Linked DNA regions of Homo sapiens: region 2 is linked to region 1. Evidence: fine-mapped expression QTL. Tissue or cell type: whole blood. Region 1 holds a variant in brackets; the other region holds the start of a gene. All regions are shown on one strand. Distances are from middle to middle.

The links. PIP is the estimated chance that this variant, and not a neighbour inherited with it, causes the effect.
Region 2: it holds the start of PRELID1, and the variant in region 1 is fine-mapped to the expression of PRELID1 in whole blood (TOPMed, PIP above 0.99).

Annotation. Positions count from the first base shown.
Region 1 is chr5:177,280,101-177,285,100 of GRCh38, forward strand. It overlaps NSD1 (nuclear receptor binding SET domain protein 1), which reads left to right. Exons shown (of 23, transcript NM_022455.5): 18 at 465-734; 19 at 2,365-2,481; 20 at 3,687-3,828. Among named protein-coding and RNA genes, the nearest start is that of RAB24, 21 kb to the right of the region's middle. The variant G/A (reference allele first, on the strand shown) is at 2,232.
Region 2 is chr5:177,301,887-177,306,886 of GRCh38, forward strand. It overlaps PRELID1 (PRELI domain containing 1), which reads left to right and starts at 1,913. Exons shown (of 5, transcript NM_013237.4): 1 at 1,913-2,191; 2 at 2,739-2,964; 3 at 3,985-4,098; 4 at 4,212-4,290; 5 at 4,536-5,000. The coding sequence starts at 2,100. The coding sequence ends at 4,684. RAB24 (RAB24, member RAS oncogene family) reads right to left here and starts at 1,833. Exons shown (of 8, transcript NM_001031677.4): 1 at 1,286-1,833; 2 at 1,123-1,191; 3 at 866-944; 4 at 691-758; 5 at 511-610; 6 at 242-292; 7 at 39-101. The coding sequence starts at 1,402. It also overlaps a transcript of MXD3 not described here. RefSeq lists enhancers at 1-723, 1,888-2,765, 2,404-2,503, 2,614-2,663, 2,684-2,743 and 2 more and silencers at 1,724-1,793, 1,844-1,923, 2,034-2,173.

The DNA.
Region 1 (5,000 bases):
CCAAGTAGCTGGGACTACAGGCGCCCACCACCACACCTGTCTAATTTTTTGTATTTTTAGTAGAGACGGGGTTTCACCGTGTTAGCCAGGATGGTCTCAATCTCCTGACCTCGTAATCCACCTGCCTCGGCCTCCCAAAGTGCTGGGATTACAGGCGTGAGCCACCGTACCTGGCTCGTATTTTATTTTTTTGAGATGGAATCTCAACATATCGGCCAGGCTGGAGTGCAGTGGTGAAATCTTGTCTCACTGCAACCTCCGCCTCCTGGGTTCAAGCAATTCTTGTGGAGTTCATATTTTGTATGTCAAGTGAGGCTCTGTTTTTATATGAAACTAAGTGTTGATAGTTCAAAATCATGGGAAATGTGGCTGCAACTTCAAGGAAAAAAAGTTTGCCTTTTTCAGGACGTGAATTGTCTTCTGCTGACTTGTTTTATGCGGTGTACTTTGTGTTACTTTTCCAGGTAAACCGTCCTATTGGCAGGGTACAGATCTTCACTGCAGACTTATCTGAAATACCCCGTTGCAACTGTAAAGCTACTGATGAGAACCCCTGTGGGATAGACTCTGAATGCATCAACCGCATGCTGCTCTATGAGTGCCACCCCACAGTGTGTCCTGCCGGAGGGCGCTGTCAAAACCAGTGCTTTTCCAAGCGCCAATATCCAGAGGTTGAAATTTTCCGCACATTACAGCGGGGTTGGGGTCTACGGACAAAAACAGATATTAAAAAGGTTAGAAAAAGCTAAATTACCATATACTTTCTCCTCTTTGCAGTTGCTTGATATCATTGATCCTTGACATTAGAAAATTCATCATAGAAGAAAATAACACAGTTAATAATTAACCTTATTGTTGTGTCTTGCCATATCCTTCTACCGTTTAGAGGCTTACGAATGGATGGTTTTGATCTCCCAAGTCCTTTGTATTGATCATGGTCACTGTGTAGGAGGTTGGAAAAAATGGGACATTCATAGAGATGCTATGGCTTTGTTTGCTTTTTTGTGAATATCCTACAGCTGGTAATTAAGAGAGATGACAGTGAGCACATGATACAGAGACATTGATCCACCTACTAATAAAACATTTTTAGTGAGGAAAAAACAGGTCTGGCTTCATGAAACATGAAGGATAAGAAGGTTAAGCCTTATTGGATGAAAATGCAGTCATGTCTTCAACTTAAAACTTGGCAGGATCTCTAAGTTTCTAATAAATAAATAATATTGTATAGTCTTTTTTTTTTTTTTAATAAAATAAGCCTTATTCTGGTTACATTTTCTGAAGAATTTTATTGGTTTCCAGGAAATGTAGTGTATATGGGTTGGCGTTTAGTCATTTGCTAAGTAGTTATTTTTATATTTACTGTATGTGCCAGGTATTGTGCTGGGGATGCACTAACCAAGACGAGAGATATGGCCTATACTTTCATAAAATTTACATTTCGGAGGGAGAGAAATATTGAACAAATCATCTCCCAGTGTGAAAGTATAAAGGGCTCTAGAGATGTGTGACAAAGGAACTGAAACTAGTTTGTCTCTGATGATATTATATTTTATTTTATTTATTTTTTGAGAGAGGGTCTCACTCTGTCGCCCAAACTGGAGCGCACTGGTGCCATCTCCGCTCACTGCAACCTTCAACTTCCAGGCTCAAGTGATCCTCCCATCTCAGCCTCCTGAGTAGCAGGGACTACAGGCTCGCATCACCACGCCTGGCTAATTTTTGTATTTTTTGTGGAGGTGAGGTCTAACCATGTTGCCCAGGCTGGACTTAAACTCCTGGGCTCAAATTATCCTCCCAGAGTGTTGGGTTTACAGGCATGAGCCATCACTCTTGACTTGTGAGGCTATTTTAAATTGAGACTTGAAATATAAGTAGCTGTTGACCCAGGCAAGGTGCATTAAAGCCCTGCAGGTTAGGAGTGAACACGTGTGAAAAGCCAGAGTGACTGTAGCATAATGAATAGGGAGGATGGTACTTTGAAATATAGAGCAGAGCAAGCACCAAGGAAGATGAACATAGTTTATTTGGGGAAGCCAATTCTCGGGCTCTGGGGCAGGTAGAGATTGGCCATCCATCTCTCTTTATAAGGACGCTCTAGTTTACTTACTAATCTTCCATTCTGGAGGATCTTTAGTATCCAGTGTATCCTAATCTTTCTGCTGCTGACAGTGGTAGGAGTAAGGAGGTGTTTCTCATTATCAAATAGTTGGGGATCGTAAAGTAATTAT[G/A]TGTGCCTAAAATTATACTCATGTAATCTGCTTTGTAGAATGTGATGTTTTCATTAATTTTTTAAAAAAATGTATACATTTGGATACCAGTGTCCTTTTTTGCCATTAAGTCAGGAGGTATTTCTTGTTCTAGGGTGAATTTGTGAATGAGTATGTGGGTGAGCTTATAGATGAAGAAGAATGCAGAGCTCGAATTCGCTATGCTCAAGAACATGATATCACTAATTTCTATATGCTCACCCTAGACAAAGTAAGTAATGGGAAATGCTGTTTTCACTGTTACAAGATTGTAAATTTGTGTTGTCCCAGCCATAGTATTTGTAGGCATGTAACGCAGTTCCCAAGGTAGGGTCTTTTCCCATACCCATTGGGATTGCTGGATTGGGGTTCTGGAGTAGGTAAGAGTGCTCATTTTCTGGGTATTCATGGCCAGAGGCAATACAGCAGCTTTTAGCATTGTTTTTGAACAATTCAATGAAAATTGGAGCTTATATCTTTGAGTATTTTTTCTACAGGATTACAAGTTTGAACTCAGAAAAGTACATAATTCTTTTTTATTTTATTTTACAGTTGAGAAAATTGTTAAATATTTAATTATTTTACTGATAAGATTATGTAAATTTTTTTTTAAAATTATTTTGAGACAGAGTCTCGTTCTGTCACCCAGGCTGGAGTACAGTGGCATGATCTCGGCTTGCTGCAACCTCTGCCTCCTGGGTTCAAGCGATTCTTCTGCCTCAGCCTCCCAAGTAGCTGGGACTACAGGCATCCGCCACCACGCCCGGCTAATTTTTGTATTTTTAGTAGAGACAAAGTTTCACCATGTTGGCCAGGCTGGTCTCAAACTCCTGACCTCAGGTGATCTGCCTGCCTCGGACTCCCAAAGTGCTGGGATTACAGGCATGAGCCACCGCACCTGGCCTTAGTTTTTATAATAAAACCCTTTCTTGGTATTTACCTTTGTAAACATTTCTCAAATTGTGCACTAGGATTTGTGAGATCTTCACTTCCAGATATTCTGATCTTACTTTGGGATTGGGACTCCGCATTAGTATTTAAATCTCCTTAGGTGATTTCTAATGTGCATCTGGGTTGAAACTACCTAAATAGAAAGTGGGACAAGCTGCTATTTGTAGGGCAGTGGTCCTCAAACTTCAATGTAGTCAGAAACCCCTGGCAGCCTTGTTATATATAACGCAGAATGCTGCACCCCACAGTCTCTGCTTTAGTGTATTTGAAGCACAACCCAGGAATTTGCATGTCTAACAAATTGCCAAATGGTGATGGTGCTGGTCCAGGGATCACACTTTGAGAACCAAAGTTCTTTGGGATCTTTTCTCTGAGAGGTTCAGTCTTTACAAATAGAAACTCCAACTTATTAGAGAGAATAGTCAAATTTTAATCCACAGCAGAGGTCTCAGGAAGTCTGATGTGTAGCTTCTTTTGGAATTCTAGGACCGAATCATTGATGCTGGTCCCAAAGGAAACTATGCTCGGTTCATGAATCATTGCTGCCAGCCCAACTGTGAAACACAGAAGTGGTCTGTGAATGGAGATACCCGTGTAGGCCTTTTTGCACTAAGTGACATTAAAGCAGGTAAGAATCATTTCAGGATTCTGCAGCTGACATCTGAATTTCAGGGCTTTTGTTTTTTACAAACAGCTTCCTCAGATTATAATTTTAAACATTTCTATATGTACCGTTCTCTGGAATTAAGTTCATTTACATTTTTGTGCAACCATCACCACCATCCGTCTCCAGAACTCTTTTCATCTTCCCCTGCTAAAACTCTATACCTACTAAACACTAAGTCCCCATTCTTCTTTTTCTTCACAGCCCCTGGCAACTACCATTCTACTTTCTGTCTCTGAATTTGACTACTATATGTACTTCATATAAATGGACAATATTTGTCCTTTTCTGACCACCTCATTTCATTCATTCATTGATTCATTTTTAATGTTTAGGGACAGAGCATTGCTCTGTTGCCCAGGCTGCACTACAGTGGCACCATCACAGTTCACTGCAGCCTCAAACTGGGCTCAAGCAATCCTGCTGCCTCAGCCTCCTGAGTAGCTAGGGCTATAGGCACATGTCCCCATTCCCAGGTTTTTTGTTTTTTGTTTTTTTTTTGTAGAGACGGAGTCTTGCCGCTATGTTGCCAAGGCTGGTCTGGAACTCCTGGGCTCAAGTGATCCTCCTGCCTCAGCCTCCCAAGTGCTGGGATTACAGGCATGAGCCACCTCGCTTAGCTTGGCTCATTTCTTTTAGCACAGTGTCTTCGGAACATGGATGGTTTTAATGGAACAAATTTTCACATTCATATGAACTTACCACTAATAGGTTTGCTTTAGAAACTACTAGCTCTTCAGTCTCCTTTCTCACCTTCCTGAAGTTGCTCTTCTTCCACTTTATAAACCAAAGATTGATCTCTCACTCTTCCATATCTTATGGGTTATGGACCCAAGGCTATTTTAAAAATAAACCACTGGGTGTGGTGGTATATGCCTGTAGTCTCGGTTATTCAGGAGGCTGAGGCCAGAAATCGCTTGAGTTCAGGAGTTTGAGAAGCAGCCTGGGTAGTATCGTGAGAACTCTGACTCTTAAAAACACACACACAAAACAACAAAAACCTCTCAACCTCTAGGATGTCAAAGAACAGGATCTTTGGAGAATTCACTGCTCTGTCATGGCTCACCTGGGTGCTTGTCTCTCTAACGGGGTAGCGAGATGGTTGTAACCAGGACAAATAGTAAGAAGCTAATTTG
Region 2 (5,000 bases), 22 kb after region 1:
CTAGAGTAAGTCTCCATAAAGGCTGGGGAAGCACACACCTGTCATCACCTGGAAGGCAGCCACACTGACGTAATCCTCTGCCACTTTCTGGAAGAGCTCGTCTGGCAGGAAAAATGATGATCAGCGAGGGCCCAATGCCAGTAGCCCTGGGATCTCCCAGTGACCCAGCCCTCTGTGCCCTATTCAGCTTCCTCTGGTGCCCCTGCATGTTCCTGCTGTGAGGCTCCAGCACAGCACTCACCCACACTCTGGCCTGTCTTGCTGGATGTTTCAAAGAGCTGAGCTTTGATATCTGTAAAGAGAAGTGACTAAAGCCTCATACCTGAGAATTAGATAAACAGACAAAAGGGAGGGCTAGCAGTTCAGGGAGTCTCCTGGACCCCACAGTTCAAGGAGGCCAGGAAGACCTCCTAGAGCACCTTGCCCTGGCAGCCAAGGCAGTCCCTATTTTCTTTGATCCACCCAGACAGCCACACACCCCCACCCCCCAAAGGGCTGAGGAGCAGCTACTGTCTGCATAGTCCTGGACGTCGTGGAAGTCCACACGTCGACGCCTCCGGTCTTCTTCCAGCAGGTCACTCTTGGTGCCACATAAGTAGATTTGGCAGCCCTGAGGCAGAAGACAAGGGTCACCTCCACAGGCCAACAAAACCCCAGCCCCTAGTGTTCTAGTGAGGTCTGTTCACCTACCTCCTCTAGGCTGCGCAGTTCCTTCACCCAGAACTTTGCTCGCTCAAAGCTGCTGCTGTCTGTGAGGTCTTGGTGTGCGGCATGCAGGAGACAACCAAGTGGTCAAGGGCTGTTCTCTGGCTAGCCTGGCACCCATCTTTTCTTGTGAGACAGCCCAAACCCCCCCCCCCCTTACCATAGCAGACGATGGCAGCCTTGGCACCCCGATAGTAGATTCTACTCATGGCCTCATAGCGCTCAGAGCCTGCTGTGTCCTAAAGAGTAAGGCCTGAGTCAAACTTAAGGCCACGTTCTCCAGACCCCGCTATTTTCCAGATAAGGAAACGGGTCTATGAGAAATGGGTCTGTGAGGCCACAAATCAACCAGTAATAGGCAGGACCTACACCTCCTCAGGAATGAGTCTCCCAAGAATAGATGGCCGGGGGACTTACCCAAATACCTAATGTCACAGTCCGGTCTCCGACCGACATCACCTTGGCCACGAAGGCGGCCCCGATGGTCTGCAACGAGAGGGAAGAGATCGGGGCCATAGGTGCAGATTACCGGCCCCCCACTCCCCCGCCCACCGTGCCTGGCCCCTCCGGATGCACTCACGTTCTGATAAGGCCCCACCAGAAAGCGGTCGTGCACGTAGCGCTCCACCAGGCTAGTCTTGCCCACGTACTCCTTGCCCAGCATCACCACCTTGACGTCCACGCGCTGCCCGCTCATGCTCCCGGGGCCGCTTCAGCCACGTCAGGGTCCTGAGCGGGGACGGGAGGCAAACCCCGATCTCCGCTCGGCCCAGGCAGCGCCCAAGCCTCAGACCCCGACCCCAAACGGCGCCAACCTACGACTCCAGACAGCGCGTCGGGCTCGAGCTCTGGCCGTGGCCTTGCACTTCGGCAGCGCCCCGTGTGCCCCCGCTGTTCGGCCCCGGGCGCCGATTATCCTTCGAAGACCCCAAGCCTCGGGGCGGCCTGGGAGCGCGCGGGACAGCGTCCTCAACAGCGCAGCACGCCGCCGTGCAGCTCGCTACTCCGTCATTCGCTCGCCTGCCCGGCTTAAGCTCCGTTCTGGCTGGGAATCCCAACCGAACCTGGGGTCTCCCGCAACCCGGCTCCTACCCGCAGCGCCGCGACTCCCGCGGGAGGGGGCTAGAGGGCGAGGGGGCGGGGCCGCAAGGTCACGTGGCGCGGGCGCCGGAAGCGGTGGCTACTGTGTGGCTGCGCCGGAAGTGGCGCGCGGCCGGACAACTCATGGCGGCGGCGGCGGCGGCGGCAGCTGCTTGGGCGCGGTGCGGTGGTGACTGAGCTACGAGCCTGGCGGCGGGTGTGCGCCGAGCCCCGGCCCGGCCCGGCCCTCGCGTGCCTCCCAGGCTCCGCACCCCTGATGCTGCGCGGGTGCTGAGCCCGCTTCGGCCGGGACGATGGTGAAGTATTTCCTGGGCCAGAGCGTGCTCCGGAGTTCCTGGGACCAAGTGTTCGCCGCCTTCTGGCAGCGGTACCCGAATCCCTATAGGTACGTGGTATTTGGAAGAGCAAAACCGCGCCATCTCGCTATCTGGAGATCGAATTATGGGTAACCCCCAAGTACTGGGACCAGGAAGGACTCGATATCGAATCCTAGGTAGACCTTATCGGGGAAGCGGCCAGGCCAGGCCTGCAAGGTCCTGAAGGGAGGTTGGGCCTGGGTGGTGGTTTACTTGAGACCTTAGTGTAAGATTCTTTTCTCAGTGTGGTGAGACAAGAAGAGGCGGCAGTATGGGAGTTGGGAGGGATCTTGGAGTTGGAAATCCTATTTCTCTGCCCGTGGCGCTTTCCTGGGGTGCAATAAATCATGAGGTCCATTCCTGCTAGAAGGCAGGAATCCAGGTCAGTCAGATGGCGGGAGTGGGAATTTGCCCTGGGATGGGCCCTTAACTCTGGTTTGAACCATAGCACATACCACCCTGCAAGGTTACGGGAAGGCGTGGCCTCTCTAGGCCCGGAGCCTCCAAATGGGAATCCCCTCGGGCAGTCTCTTAGGGGCAAGCTTCTGAGGGTCACCTTCACCCTGACACCTGCAGCAAACATGTCTTGACGGAAGACATAGTACACCGGGAGGTGACCCCTGACCAGAAACTGCTGTCCCGGCGACTCCTGACCAAGACCAACAGGATGCCACGCTGGGCCGAGCGACTATTTCCTGCCAATGTTGCTCACTCGGTGTACGTCCTGGAGGACTCTATTGTGGACCCACAGAATCAGACCATGACTACCTTCACCTGGAACATCAACCACGCCCGGCTGATGGTGAGACACCTCCTGTTGTGATTCTGCACCTCCCCCTCTCCCCTCCCCCCGAGATAGAGAGCTCCTCAGATACATGTGGCTAGAGAGCCATAAGGCAGCTTTTGTGGCCGGAGGCAGGTCTGGGTTACTGAGGGTTGACAGCTGTAGAGTATGACCTCAGGTTTTCTTCTTTTCAGCTGGCCATCCTCTCTGGACCTGTCCTTTGACTCATTCATACAGTGGGGGAGGGGTACCTATCTTACGGAGTTGTCCTAAGTTCTAAATGCAAAGCGCTCCCATCTGGCATCTATGGCACAGATATATGTTGGACTCACAGGAGTGATGCTGAGTGGCGGAGGCAGTGCTTTTCTTTTTTTTTTTTCTGTTTTTTGTTTTTTTCTGGTGACAAGAGTCTCACCCAGGTTGGAGTGTAGTGACATGATCTCACCTCACTGCCACTGCCACCTCCTGGGTTTAAGCAATTCTCGTGCCTCAGCCTTCTGAAGAGGTGGATTTCTAAGCACACACCACCACGCCTGGCTAATTTTTGTATTTTTAGTACAGACAAGGTTTTACCATGTTGGCCAGGCTGGTCTCGAACTCCTAACCTCAAGTGATCCGCCCGCCTCGGCCTCCCAAAGTGCTAAGATTACAGGCGTGAGCCACCGCGCCGGGCAAATGTTTTTATTTGGACTGTCAGGAAGCTCCAGAGCTGCAGCTGGTGGAAGGCGGCTAAAACACTGCATGCGTCTAGATGCACAAAACAAAATCCAGGAGCAGGATGGGCTGGAAGGCCCTTTGTTGATCTCAAGAGAGAGACCTTTTGCCTTCTAGTTTAAGAGTCAGAAGAGAGGTTTTCGAGAGCAAAACGACCTTATTTATGGCTTCTTGTTCTGTCAGTGCCACTTGGAGGTGCAGTCAGGGGAAGGAATGGATTTTCATTGTATTGCTTCGCCTCATGAAAAGTGACAGGGAGTCAGATTTATGTGCAAGTTGGCAAAATGAAAGACTGTTCCACGATTGTGGTTGGCCTCTGCATAGGTGGTGGAGGAACGATGTGTTTACTGTGTGAACTCTGACAACAGTGGCTGGACTGAAATCCGCCGGGAAGCCTGGGTCTCCTCTAGCTTATTTGGTGTCTCCAGAGCTGTCCAGGTGAGCAGTGTTGTTGGGGCTGCTGGGGCTCTGGGACCCAGTGCTTTCGGTGTTGGGGCTGGGCTGGGGTCAGTGGGCAACTCAGTATCCTTCCCATTCTCATCTCATGCCAGGAATTTGGTCTTGCCCGATTCAAAAGCAACGTGACCAAGACTATGAAGGGTTTTGAATATATCTTGGCTAAGCTGCAAGGTGAGTTTCTGGGTATGTGGATATTCCTCATAGGGAGAGGCTCATTCAGCCTAGCGGGCGTGGAGTCTGGGTTAGTCATTGCCCTGCTCTGAGCTGGGACTCCTTGTCTGTACTGGGGGTGGGAGGAGGGTGAATACCACCTTTTTAGTGGAGCCTGGCCCAGAGGAGATTGGTGTCATGGGGGAGGGAAATTAGGTTGGTCTTTCAGGCATCTTCTAAAGGCAGCCACCTGCCGTTCGCGACAGGCGAGGCCCCTTCCAAAACACTTGTTGAGACAGCCAAGGAAGCCAAGGAGAAGGCAAAGGAGACGGCACTGGCAGCTACAGAGAAGGCCAAGGACCTCGCCAGCAAGGCGGCCACCAAGAAGCAGCAGCAGCAGCAACAGTTTGTGTAGCCAGTCTACCACCACCACAGCACCCCAGACAGCTAGGCTTAGCCTCTCTGCCCTCCCTTCATTGTACTTTATCATTAAAAATCAACTTCCAGCCCTGTCTGCTGTCTACGTGGTGGGTTGTGGGGATGCAGTTTGGCATCTGCAGTACACCAAGCACATGATTCATGTCTGAGCCAGGTCTGCTTATTCTCCCATTGGGCAGCTGAGGACCGAGGCACAGAGGTGCGGTGACTTGCCCGGGGCTCCAGGTAGCCTGCAGGTTAACTGGCGGTAAGTGCTAGACTGTAAGCCCGACAAGGGCAGGGCTTTTGGTTTT